2 separate regions of the Homo sapiens genome follow, and region 2 is linked to region 1. A link means that fine-mapping ties the variant in region 1 to the plasma level of a protein whose gene starts in the linked region. Region 1 holds a variant in brackets. A gene starts in the other region. All regions are shown on their forward strands. Region 1 has its middle 3.3 kb from the start of MUC5B. Region 2 holds the start of SFTPD (surfactant protein D).

What was found. PIP is the chance, under the fine-mapping model, that this variant and not a neighbour inherited with it causes the effect. The UK Biobank Pharma Proteomics Project read protein levels with antibody pairs (Olink). The fine-mapping took linkage between variants from a reference panel, not from the people measured, so its PIPs are less certain.
Region 2: SFTPD starts here. The variant in region 1 is fine-mapped to the plasma level of the SFTPD protein (UK Biobank, PIP above 0.99).

Annotation. Positions count from the first base shown.
Region 1 is chr11:1,217,058-1,222,424 of GRCh38, forward strand. No RefSeq gene overlaps it. Among named protein-coding and RNA genes, the nearest start is that of MUC5B, 3.3 kb to the right of the region's middle. The variant G/T (reference allele first, on the strand shown) is at 2,934.
Region 2 is chr10:79,946,655-79,952,021 of GRCh38, forward strand. SFTPD (surfactant protein D) reads right to left here and starts at 2,451. Exons shown (of 8, transcript NM_003019.5): 1 at 2,412-2,451; 2 at 1-8. The coding sequence starts at 5.

The DNA.
Region 1 (5,367 bases):
CTATTAGGGAAATGCAAGTCCAGACCACAGGGAAATATCACGTGGTGATTTTTTTTTTTAAAGATAACAAGTGTTGGTGAAGATATAGAGAAATTGGAACCGCCGTGCATGGCTGGCGGGAGCATAAAACGGCACAGCCGCTGTGGAGCAGTCTAGCAGCTGCTCAGAAAGCCAAACATAGACTTACCGTGTGACCCAGCCATTCTGCTCCCAGCCAGAGGGACTCCTAGCTGAGGAACTGGAAACAGGGACTCAGATTCCTGGGCACATTGCGATGTCCATCGCAGCCTCATTCACAAAACCAAAAGGCAGAAGCAGCCCGAGGGTCCACCGACGGGCGAATTGATGAACCCAGCGGGGCCCATCCACGCAGTGGAAAATGACTCTGCCTTAAACAAGGAAGGAGACCCAGACATAGGCAACAACACGGACGAAACTTGAGGACATGGTGCTCCGTGAAACAAGCCAGTCACATCAGAATGGGTATTGTATGAGTCCATTTATACGAGGTCCTCTAGAGGACCAAACTTACGGAGAGAGTTGAGGTTGGTGGATGCGTGGGGCTCGGGGAGGGGAGTGGGAGCTGGTGTTTCATGGGGACGGAGTTTCAGTGCAGGGCGATGGGAAAGCTCTGGGGATGGTCGGACAACAGTGTAAGTGGACTTAATGCTCCTATATTAATTTAAAAATGGCAAAATGGGTGGCGCGGTGGCTCACTCCTGTCATCCCAGCACTTTGGGAGGCTGAGGCAGGCGGATCACGAGGTCAAGAGATTGGGACCATCCTGGCCAACATGGTGAAACCCCGTCTCTACTAAAAATACAAAAATTAGCTGGGCGTGGTGGTGCACACCTGTAGTCCCAGCTACTTGGGAGGCTGAGGCAGGAGACTCGCTTGAACTGAGGGAGCAGAGGTTGCAGTGAGCTGAGATCGAGCCACTGCACTCCAGCCTGGCGACAGAACAAGACTCCATCTCAAAAAAAAAAAAAAAAAAATTGCAAATTGGGCGGTGTGGTGGCTGACTCCTCTCATCCCAGCACTTTGGGAGGCTGAGGTGGGAGGATCGCTTGAGGCTGGGAGTTCATGACAGCCTGGGCAACAGAGTGAGACCTCGTCTCTACAAAAACAAACAAACAAACAAACAAGACTAAAATGATCAATGTTATGTCACATACACTTCACCACTGTTTTAGAAAAAATGCCCTATAGTTTTCCTGCTTTAAATGATCGGATCAATTCGCCCCACTCCCCCGGGCTCCTCCCCACACCTGACCCTGCCCTCACTTCTGGCTCCCCTCAGCCCCCTGTGCCCCAGCCCCAGCCACACCAGGTGCATTTGGACCCTCCAGGTCGCCGAGTTCATCCCCGCCTCGGCGTCTCTGCACCTGCTGTTCCCTGGTTTACAGCTCAACCGTCATCCTCCCACCCCACCCAGAGGACCATCCTCTTTTGTTCCTTGGAAGCTGGTGCTGCTGCTGCAAAGTCCATGCTACTGGAAGCCTCGAAGTAGGGGGGATTCTGTTCTAGTCTTTGTCAAATCCCACTGCCCATGGCAGCACCAGGACCCAGTTGGGGCTCCTTGGAACTGGCAGGAAGGAATCGGGTGGGGAGACAGGCAGAGAAGGGGGTCTGTGCAAAGACCAGGAGAAACCAGAGACAGGTCGTGGCGGGGGCTGAGACCTTCACACAGGGCAGGGGCCGCCCCGGGGGGTTCTCCTTGTCTTGCAGCCCCTGTGCAGGGCATCCTCAGAGCAGGGGCAGCCCAGGGCACCGGGACGCCCAGGTGGAAGGTGACCTGCCATCCTGCAGCTTCACTTCCTGCCGGGTGATTCGGTACCCCTGGTTGTGCCTGTCGCTCAGTGGGCCAGGGTCTAAGGGCTGTGAAGACTCAACATGCCCCCACCTGCTACTTCTGAACACCAGGCACTGGCTCTGAGACCCCCGGGCCTTGCTGGACATCTCCCCAGGTGTACTGGGCCAGGGGACAGGGGCCTGGCCATCCCAACACCCAGGAGCAAGCAGCCCGTCACCTGCCCAGGTCCCCGAGGCCTGGAACACCTTCCTGCTGGGCCCACCCAGCCCTGGACCTGTCCCGCTTGGTCACACGATGGGACCCTCGGCCCATCAGCAGGTGAGCCCCCAGGAGCGTGCGTCTGGCCTGGTAAGGCCTCCACCCCAGGAGTTGGGGGGCCCCCGTGCCAGGGAGCAGGAGGCTGCCGAGGTGGAGGGTCCCACACAGCTACCACTCCCTATCCCCAGCACAGCCTGGGGCCTGGCTCTGAGTACACATCCTGGGGCCTGGCTCTGAGCAGACCAAGAGCCCATCCCTGCTTTGTGACCCCCTGGGCTGTGCCTGACACCCCAGGTGTCCAGCGTGGAGCTGGGGCCCAGCTCAGTGCCTGGGAGCTGATGGACCCTGGGGCCCGGCTCAGTGCCTGGTGGCTGATGGACACTGGGGCCTGGCTCAAACCTGCACCGCTGTGGTCGGGGGAGGGGAGGGCTGAGCCACGTGGGGACCCCAGCCCCAGTGACGACTCTTTGCGGTGGCCAAGCCCTCCAGGTGTCCCCCAGGGCTGAGGGGCTGGGCTTGGGGCAGCTGGTGACAGCAGATGGTGGCCCTGATCACTGGTGCCTGGACGGCCTCTGAAGGGGTCTGTGGGGTCCTGGACGGGTCCCCATTCATGGCAGGATTAACCCCCCTCGGGTTCTGTGTGGTCTAGGCCGCCCCTTTGTCTCCACTGCCCCCTGGCCAGAATGAGGGACAGTGACCCACCCAGGGCTGGGCCTGGCTCAGACTCCGTCAGAGCCGCAGGGCAAGTTCCTGGCACGTCCGAGGTGGGAGGCTCCTCTGCGCTCCAGGAGGCTGTGCCTGGCCCCCCTTCCCGGCAGGAACCGGCTGTGTCCCTTTCCTTCCTTTATCTTCTGTTTTCAGC[G/T]CCTTCAACTGTGAAGAGGTGAACTCTTCAAACACGCTGAGCAAACAGGCCCGACTCCCAGGGCCGCATCCGGGATGTCTCAATAGCTGTGGCCTTGACGTCCACCTCGGACCCCTGCCCCGGACCCAGCCCAGTTCCCAATGGGCCCTCTGCCCGGGGAGGTGCCTAGTGGGAGGGACGAGGGCAAAGTCGGGGCCCCCACTTGTTTGGTGTCACTGTGTGCCAGCGGCCACTGGCGGGCGAGGCTGTTCCAGGGTGGAGGCGGGGAGGGTTGGACCACAGGCACTGAGCGGGGACAGAGGAGCTGCCTGAGGGTCCCAGCTCTGCCATGGAGAAAACGCTATCTCGCTGATGCAGAGGTGCCCGGCCCACTCGAGCTGGGGGTGAGGGGGCTGCTCCCCAGTGGGCCGCCAGCCCCCATGAAGGCCGCGGGCACCGGCCGTGGTCAGGGAGGGCAGGGGACAGGCAGTGGGGGCCAGCAGGGGAGACACTAGGCTTGGCCCCAGCACCCAGGTGGGCATCGGCTTGTGAGCTGGAGCCGCGGGCAGGGAGGGGGGATGTCACGAGGGCTTGGCTAAGGTGGGAGACCTGGGCGGGTGCGTCGGGGGGACGTCTGCAGCAGAGGCCCGGGCAGCAGGCACACCCCTCCTGCCAGTGCGAGGAACGAGGCGCCACAGCGGCCGGTAGCCCCCCATTTGCCCAGCCTGGCCTGGAGCAGGCAGGAAGGCCGGGGAGAGGGGTCTGGCTGGGGCCTGGGTGCAGTCACAGCCACGAGCCCAGGGGTGGGGACTCTGGCCCACCCTCCAGACCATCCTCAAGGCCCACTGGCCCAGGCATCCCCGCCCACCCCTCCCACCGTGCCGTGCTGCAGCGGGTCTACCGGCCTGGATGTGAAAGAGAGCTTGGAGACCCCAGAGACCTCGGAACCTTCAGCTTTGGAAGTGACGTCGGTGGGGTGGGTGGGGGGAGCACAGGCTCTGGAGTCCCGGAAGTGAGCGGGGAGCTACGCTGAGATCTGGGAGACCCCCTGCCCCCACCCAGGTACAGGGCCAGGCAGAAGCCCGAGGTGTGCCCTGAGTTAAAGAAACCGTCACAAAGAACAAAGGGAGAAGGCGGGTTCCAGCCTCCACCACAGCCCTCGCGCTCTGAGGAGCCACCTGGGGGCCTCAGCCATGAGGGGTGACAGGTGGCAAAACGGGCCAGCTCCGTTCACGTCGCTGTGCAGCTGTCTCCGCCCTCCATCTCCAGAACGTTCTCACATTCCCAAGCTGAAACCCTGTCCCCATGCAACACCAGCTCACCATCCCCTCTGCCAGCCCCTGGCGCCCACCGTCCACACTCCGTCTCTGCGGGTTTCATGACTCCAGGGGCAGCACACGAGTGGCCCCTCCTGCCTTTGTCCTCTGTGTCCACCTGCCTCACTCTGCACAGTGTCCCCAGCTTCCCCCATGGAGCAGCCTGGGCCAGCCTCTCCTTTTCACGGCTGAACCGTATTCCACCGCACGGATCAGCCTCACGATGCTGACCCAGTCCTCCGCCCAGGGACACATGGGCAGCTTCTGCCCTTTGTCAGTGATGCTGCTGTGGACATGGGTGTGCAAATGTCCCTCAGGACCCGCCTTCAGTTCTTCTGGGGACAGACCCAGAGTGGAGTTGCTGGTCACCCCCACCAGCAGGGCACAGGGCTCCGGGTCCCCACGTCTCTGCCAACACTTCCTACTTCCTGTGTTTCTTGATCCCCGCCATCCTATTGAGCGTGAGACAGGTCAGAAGCTTTGAAGATGGGCTTTCGTCTTGTCCCAGAAATCCCACCTCTAAGAATTTAACTTCAGAAAGACAAACGCGGGGGAGCTGGTGCAGGGCCCGTGACGGGGACTGTGACGTAAATAAAACAACAGACCTGGACACCACCCTAGGGTCCCCATGGGGCCGGACGAGGCCACACCACCCGACCTGGTGCTTCCTGCCTGGCGTCTGCGCCACGGAGCATTCAGGACGCTGGTGACCAGGGAGCCAGGAGGTGGGAGCATCTGAGGTGCAGGTCACACGGGCAGGAGGTGTTTGCAAGAGGTATTGCAGCGCGGACGGAGTGTCCTGCAGATGACGCTGTCTGTCCTGTAGATGACGCTCGTCAAGGAGGTTTACCACATAGCCCCCAGGAAGCCCACCCGACACCAGCCGGAGGTGCTAGGCTTCTGCGGCTCCCACCTGGGGCAGGCGGAGGACCCCGGGCAGGTCCAGGACCCCCCGGAGCAGCTGCTTCCTCAACCCTGCCAGGGTTAATGAGGAGGCCCCAGAGTGAGGTGGAGGCCAAATGGGACTCAGGGCCGGAGCCTCTGGCCTGGCTGGATCAGGGCTGGCATTGGACAAGCGCAGCTGACTCCCGATGTGCATGGCCAGGAGACACTCTGGGCCTCAGTTTCCCCTTGAATGT
Region 2 (5,367 bases), not on the chromosome of region 1:
AGCATGGCCTGGAGAGGTGAACAGAAAGAGAAAAGACATGCTTATGCTTCATGGACATGGTTTAGGGCTTGGCTCAGCTTCTAGAGGTGACAAGAAGCCCCCATTCCCTCCTTCTGTCCTCTGCTATGGGGCCTAGAGCAGCAGGAATCCAAAAGCAGTTTAAGGACAAGGAGGGCACAAGGTCTGGATGGAGAGCATGAGTTACCCAGCTGGAACTCTGACATAGGTTGACAGCAGCATCCCCCATTCCCAGGTGCTCATGTCTTCCCTTCTTGTGCCTTCCCTTGGGCACTAAGTTTGGCACAGTGGCTAGGATGTAGCATTCCTCACTGGGGCCATCTGTCACATCAAGAAGGGTTCATTGAGTGCCTCTGGGCAGGACACCCCCCGCCCACTCCCTAGACCATCTCCCTGTCTGTACCACTGAGGCAACTGGCTTAGCTCAGACAAGGCAAGCCTGTTTCTTCTCTCTTGCTGCCTTGCATGGACTAGCACTGGTGCTGATAGTGCTGGTCTGAAAATGCAGCCAGAGTCCTGAGTGCTTAGTAATGTCCTTCCTGAGCGCAGGCTGGGAGTGTGGTGCACATTTGCCTGGCAATTTGCCATTCCTCGAGCAGGTGCTGTCTCTAGAGAAAAGTCCCAGAGGGAACCCAGGTGAAAGTTTTCAGAGACACTAAACTAGCAGTAGGAGAAATCCTGAGACACCTAGAGTTCTTCTAAGACCTGAGAGGGTTTGGAAAAGAAGTATGTGGAGTCTGGGCACGGTCGCTCATGCCTGTAACCCCAGCACTTTGGGAGGCCGAGGCGGGCAGATCACTTGAAGTCAGGAGTTCGAGACCAGCCTGGCCAACATGGCAAAACCCCATCTCTACTAAAAGTATAAAAAATTAGCCAGATGTGGTGGTGCGTGCTGTAATCCCAGCTACTCGGGAGGCTGAGGCAGGAGAATCTCTTGAACCCGGGAGGTGGAGGGTGCAGTGAGCCGAGATCGTGCCACTGCACTCCAGCCTGGGCAAGAGAGTGAGACTCCATCTCAGAAAAAAAAAGAAGTCTTATATGGAAAGAGGACATGCCAGGTAGGCTCAGTCAGGCAGAAAGCTAGTGTTGTGGGTAAGCAAGAGCAACTACCCAACAGGGCACCCATTTACTATCTAAGATGGTCAGGAACTGAGACCAGGATAAGAGCAGGACCTGGGACATTAACTGTTTTGGGTATCTTTTCTCTCAATGAGAAACCGTAAAGTTATGAGAGTGAAAAGAGCTGATCAGATTCGCAGAGGCTAGGAACAAAGCCAGAGGGACTTGTGCAAAGAAAGGGGTCACCAGGCCAACTGGGGTGGTGGCAAGTGGGGGGCTTCCTGCCCAGAGGAGTGCCTTCTTCTTTGACTGCTGGTGATTCTGGGCTGTGGATGACCCCTATTTCTCACTAGCCTCTTTCAATTTTGAAATCACCACTTCCTTGGGTATCCTGGTAGTCTCTAGAAACACCTGGGTGAGCTCACTGCCAGCAGCGGCTACCTTGTTACACCTGTTCTGGCAGAGGCTCAATCATGAGCAGCAAGGGCCAGACCCAGGCCAGAGCAAGGGCATTGTTCTGTGCCCCGCAGCTCCCTCACCCCTCAGGCCCTGTGTCTGATTCTGGGGAAGAATGAAAGGCAATAGGCATTCTGTCTACAGGCTCAAGATGGCACAGAAGGCACCAGCAGCCACTGTGGCTTGAAGGACACTTGGAGAGGGCAGACCCGGGTTTTCAGGCCCAGGATTCAGATGAGGCATCTTAGCTGGGGCAGCAGATGGAGTGGGCAGAGTTGTGGTCCCCCTCAACCCCTGCAGTGCCCAGTTTATGCTAAGCTTTCAGAGTACAATTTCATTGAAAAGGCCATCTCCTCTGAACATGGATTGGAAAATCAGAGACCTACTCCAGTAAGTATATTTTTTAAAGTAAAGACCTGAAGCTATGAGAAAAACAGGCTTGCCCTGCTTTTCCACAGGCTGTTGGCACCAGGATGGGTTTAGAACCCCAGCCTGTGAGTGCCTGGGTTTGTCTCTCTTCCACTGTCCTTTCTGAAGAAATCAGTGCAGAAAAGAGCCTAGAGATAAATTAGCATTGCATTTTTCCACCTGAAGCTTCCACACTGTGGCATCCCAGGTCTAGATAGTGTCACACCCACTCTTCCACCCTGTGCACCCCCAGCTCAGAAAGCAAATCCTCCCCTGGGCTGAGGCCACTGAATAAGGGGCAGAAGAGCACCATAAGACCTCCTGTGCTCCCCACCTCCTGCGCCCATGCCTCCTAGACCAGAACAGCTACACAGACCCTCCACACCAATAGGTTGAATTGCCCAGGTCGGCAGAGGGATATTTATAGGATGTGGAGAAAATAAAAAGAAGGCAAGAACAGAGACACTTACAGGTTTCTTTTTGTTAGGCCCCAGGAGCTCCAAGCAAACTAGCCTTTGCTTGGCAGGCACTCACTATTTATGCCTGCCCTGTACCCTGAGCTGCCCAGCCCCAAAAACTCCCTTCAAGAAGTGGGGCAATTTTCTTCTTTATTGACTCACTCACTCTTATCCCCACCTGCGTTCTGGAAACCTGCCACTGATATTCACAATACTATGCACATCCATCACTATAGTTTGCAGAACACTATCAGGCCTTGAACTCATCTGCACCTTTCTCACTGCAGCTCTGTGAATTAAGTGGCATCATCAGTGTCTGTATTTTATAGATGTCTAGAAATCAGGAGTCCAGAGACCAGCAGGTTGCACAATGACCTACAGCGATTGCAAAAGGAACTCACAACTGCAGATCTTAAGAGCCAAGACCTGCTGTGTCCACTTCTCCTCTTCCTTTGTCTCAACAGCACTGCCCAGATATTGGGAAAGAGCTGAGAGCTGCTTGGAATACCTGGGCAGGGGTGGGGCAGGTAGAGTGGCTGCAGAGGCAGCAGCATGTGGGGGCAGCAGCTAGGGAGCTGCCACCTGGAAAGAGTTGCTCTTTTGCATGCTGCTCTAGGCCTCAGAGAGCCCCTGCCTTGCTTGTCTTTTGTGGGATGGATTTCCCTTAGCAGACCTCTGCCTTGCCTTGTTCAGGCTTGTTCTCCCTGCCATCTTAGCTGGTGTTTGTCTTGTGCACTGTTCTTGTAACTAGTTAGGACCCCTGAGCTGATGCTACTTTTATCCAATCTTTTAGTCTGTATGTATTTTTTTTTTTTTTGAGACAGTCTCACTCTGTCACCCAGGCTAGAGTGCCATAATGCATTTATAGCTCACTGCAGCCTCAAACTCCTGGGCTCAAGTGATTGTCCTGCCTCAGCCTCTTTACAGGTGAGCATGATCACACCTGGCTAATTTCTCTTTTTAATTTTTTACAGAGATGGGGTCTCACTCTGTTGCCCACGCTGGTCTCAAACTCCTGGTCTCAAGCAATTCTCCTGCCTCAGCCTACCGAAGTTCTGAGATTACAAGTGTAAGCCATCATACCCAGCACCAATCTGTATCTTTTAAGTGGAACATTTACTCCATTTATTATCAAGGTTAATATTGATATGTGATGTTTTGTTCCTGTCATGATAATTGTTACCCAGTTGCTTTTTAGTCTCAATTATGTAATTGCTTTATATAATCTGTGAGTTTTTCACTTTAATGTGCTTTTATGATGAGGAGTATTGTCCATTCATTTCCATGTTTAGAACTTTAAGCATTTCTTGTAGTGCTGGTCTTGTGGTGACAAATTCCCTTTGCATTTGTTGTATGGGAAAAACTTTATTTCTCCTTCATTTATGCAGCTTAGTTTAGCAGGATACAAAATTCTTGGCTGGCAGGATTTTTGTTTAAGTAGATTAAACATAAGACCCCAATCTCTTCTGGCTTGTAAGGTTTCTGCTAAGAAGTCCATTGTTAGTCTGTTGGGTTTTCCTGTATAGATTAGACATTTCTCTCTTGCTGCTTTTAGGATGTTTTCCTTCACATTGACTTTGGATAGTCTGATGACGATATGCCTTTATGAGGTTTCTCTTGTAAAGCATCTTCCAGGTGTTCTCTGAGCATCTCCTATCTGGATGTCTAATTCTCTAGCAAGACCAGGGAAGTTTTCCTGAATTATTCCCTCAAATAGGTTTTCCAAGCTTTTAATTTTTTTTCTTCTCCCTCAGGAATGTCTATATATTGTATATTTGGTAACTTTATGTAATTCTATATTTTTCAAAGTCTTTGTTCATTTTTAAAAATTTATTTTTTCTGTATTTCTGTCTGACTAGGTTAATTCAAATGACTGGCCTTCAGGCTCTGAAATTATTTCTTCTGCTTGGTCTAGTCTTTTGCTAAAAGTTTCAACTATATTTTATAGTTCCTTCAATAAATTTTTATTTCTAGAAGTTCTATTTGGTTTTTGTTTTTTAATCTCTATCTCTTTTGTAAATTTTTCATTAATATCCTGAATTATTTTTCTGATTTCCTTATGTTAGTTTTCAACTTTCTCTTGTATCTCATTGAGCTTCCTTACAACTCATATCTTAAATTCTTTATTTGTTATTTCAAAATTTTTATATTGGTTAGGATCCATTGCTAGGGAGCTGGTGTGATCCTTTGGGCATGTCAAAATACTGGTTTTTCGTACTTCCAGAGTGCTTATGCTGATTTCTTCTCATCTAGAGAACCCGTTACTTCTTACTTTTGAACTTACTCTCATTTGAATGGGATTTTTTCCCCCTTTGAAGGTGTGACTGTATGTTGTGTGTGATCATTTGGCTTCAATTTTGGGTGCCTTCCGTGGGTCACAGCTCTGTATGAGTTCCTTGGTCATAGATAGCTTTTGTGTGGTGGCTTTATTATGCTGTATAGATAGCTTTTGTGTGGTGGCTTTATTATGCTGATTGTAGTAGCAATGTATTGGGCATATGAGCAGGAATACTACCTTCTGAGGGGCTGGGAATGTGGAAGTCTCTGAAAGTTTATCTCATTCCCCAGCACTATACCCTCTGTCAGCCTGTTTTTTATTTGGTTGTGCAATTCAATCTGCATCCCAATAAAAGCTGGCTGTGGCATAAGCTGATGGGTACTTGGTCTTTGTTTTCTGGGAGGGGATCTCTGTTGTCACAGGCAGTTGGCTGGTCTGTGGATGGCCTGATTCCCTGAAGGGAACACAAAGCTTTGGAGGGGGACACAAAACTGAGGGGCACTAAACGACCAAGCTCACCCTGGGAAACCCCAATTATGAGCAGAAGCAACTGCCTTGATGGGAGTGGAAATGGGAGCTCATGGTGAAAGGCACTGATGTCTCCACCAGAGTGGGAAGGAGTATACCAGCTCCACATCCTGGGAAGGCAGGAAGGCAATCCACTTTCCTAAAACACCCTTGTCCCGGAGC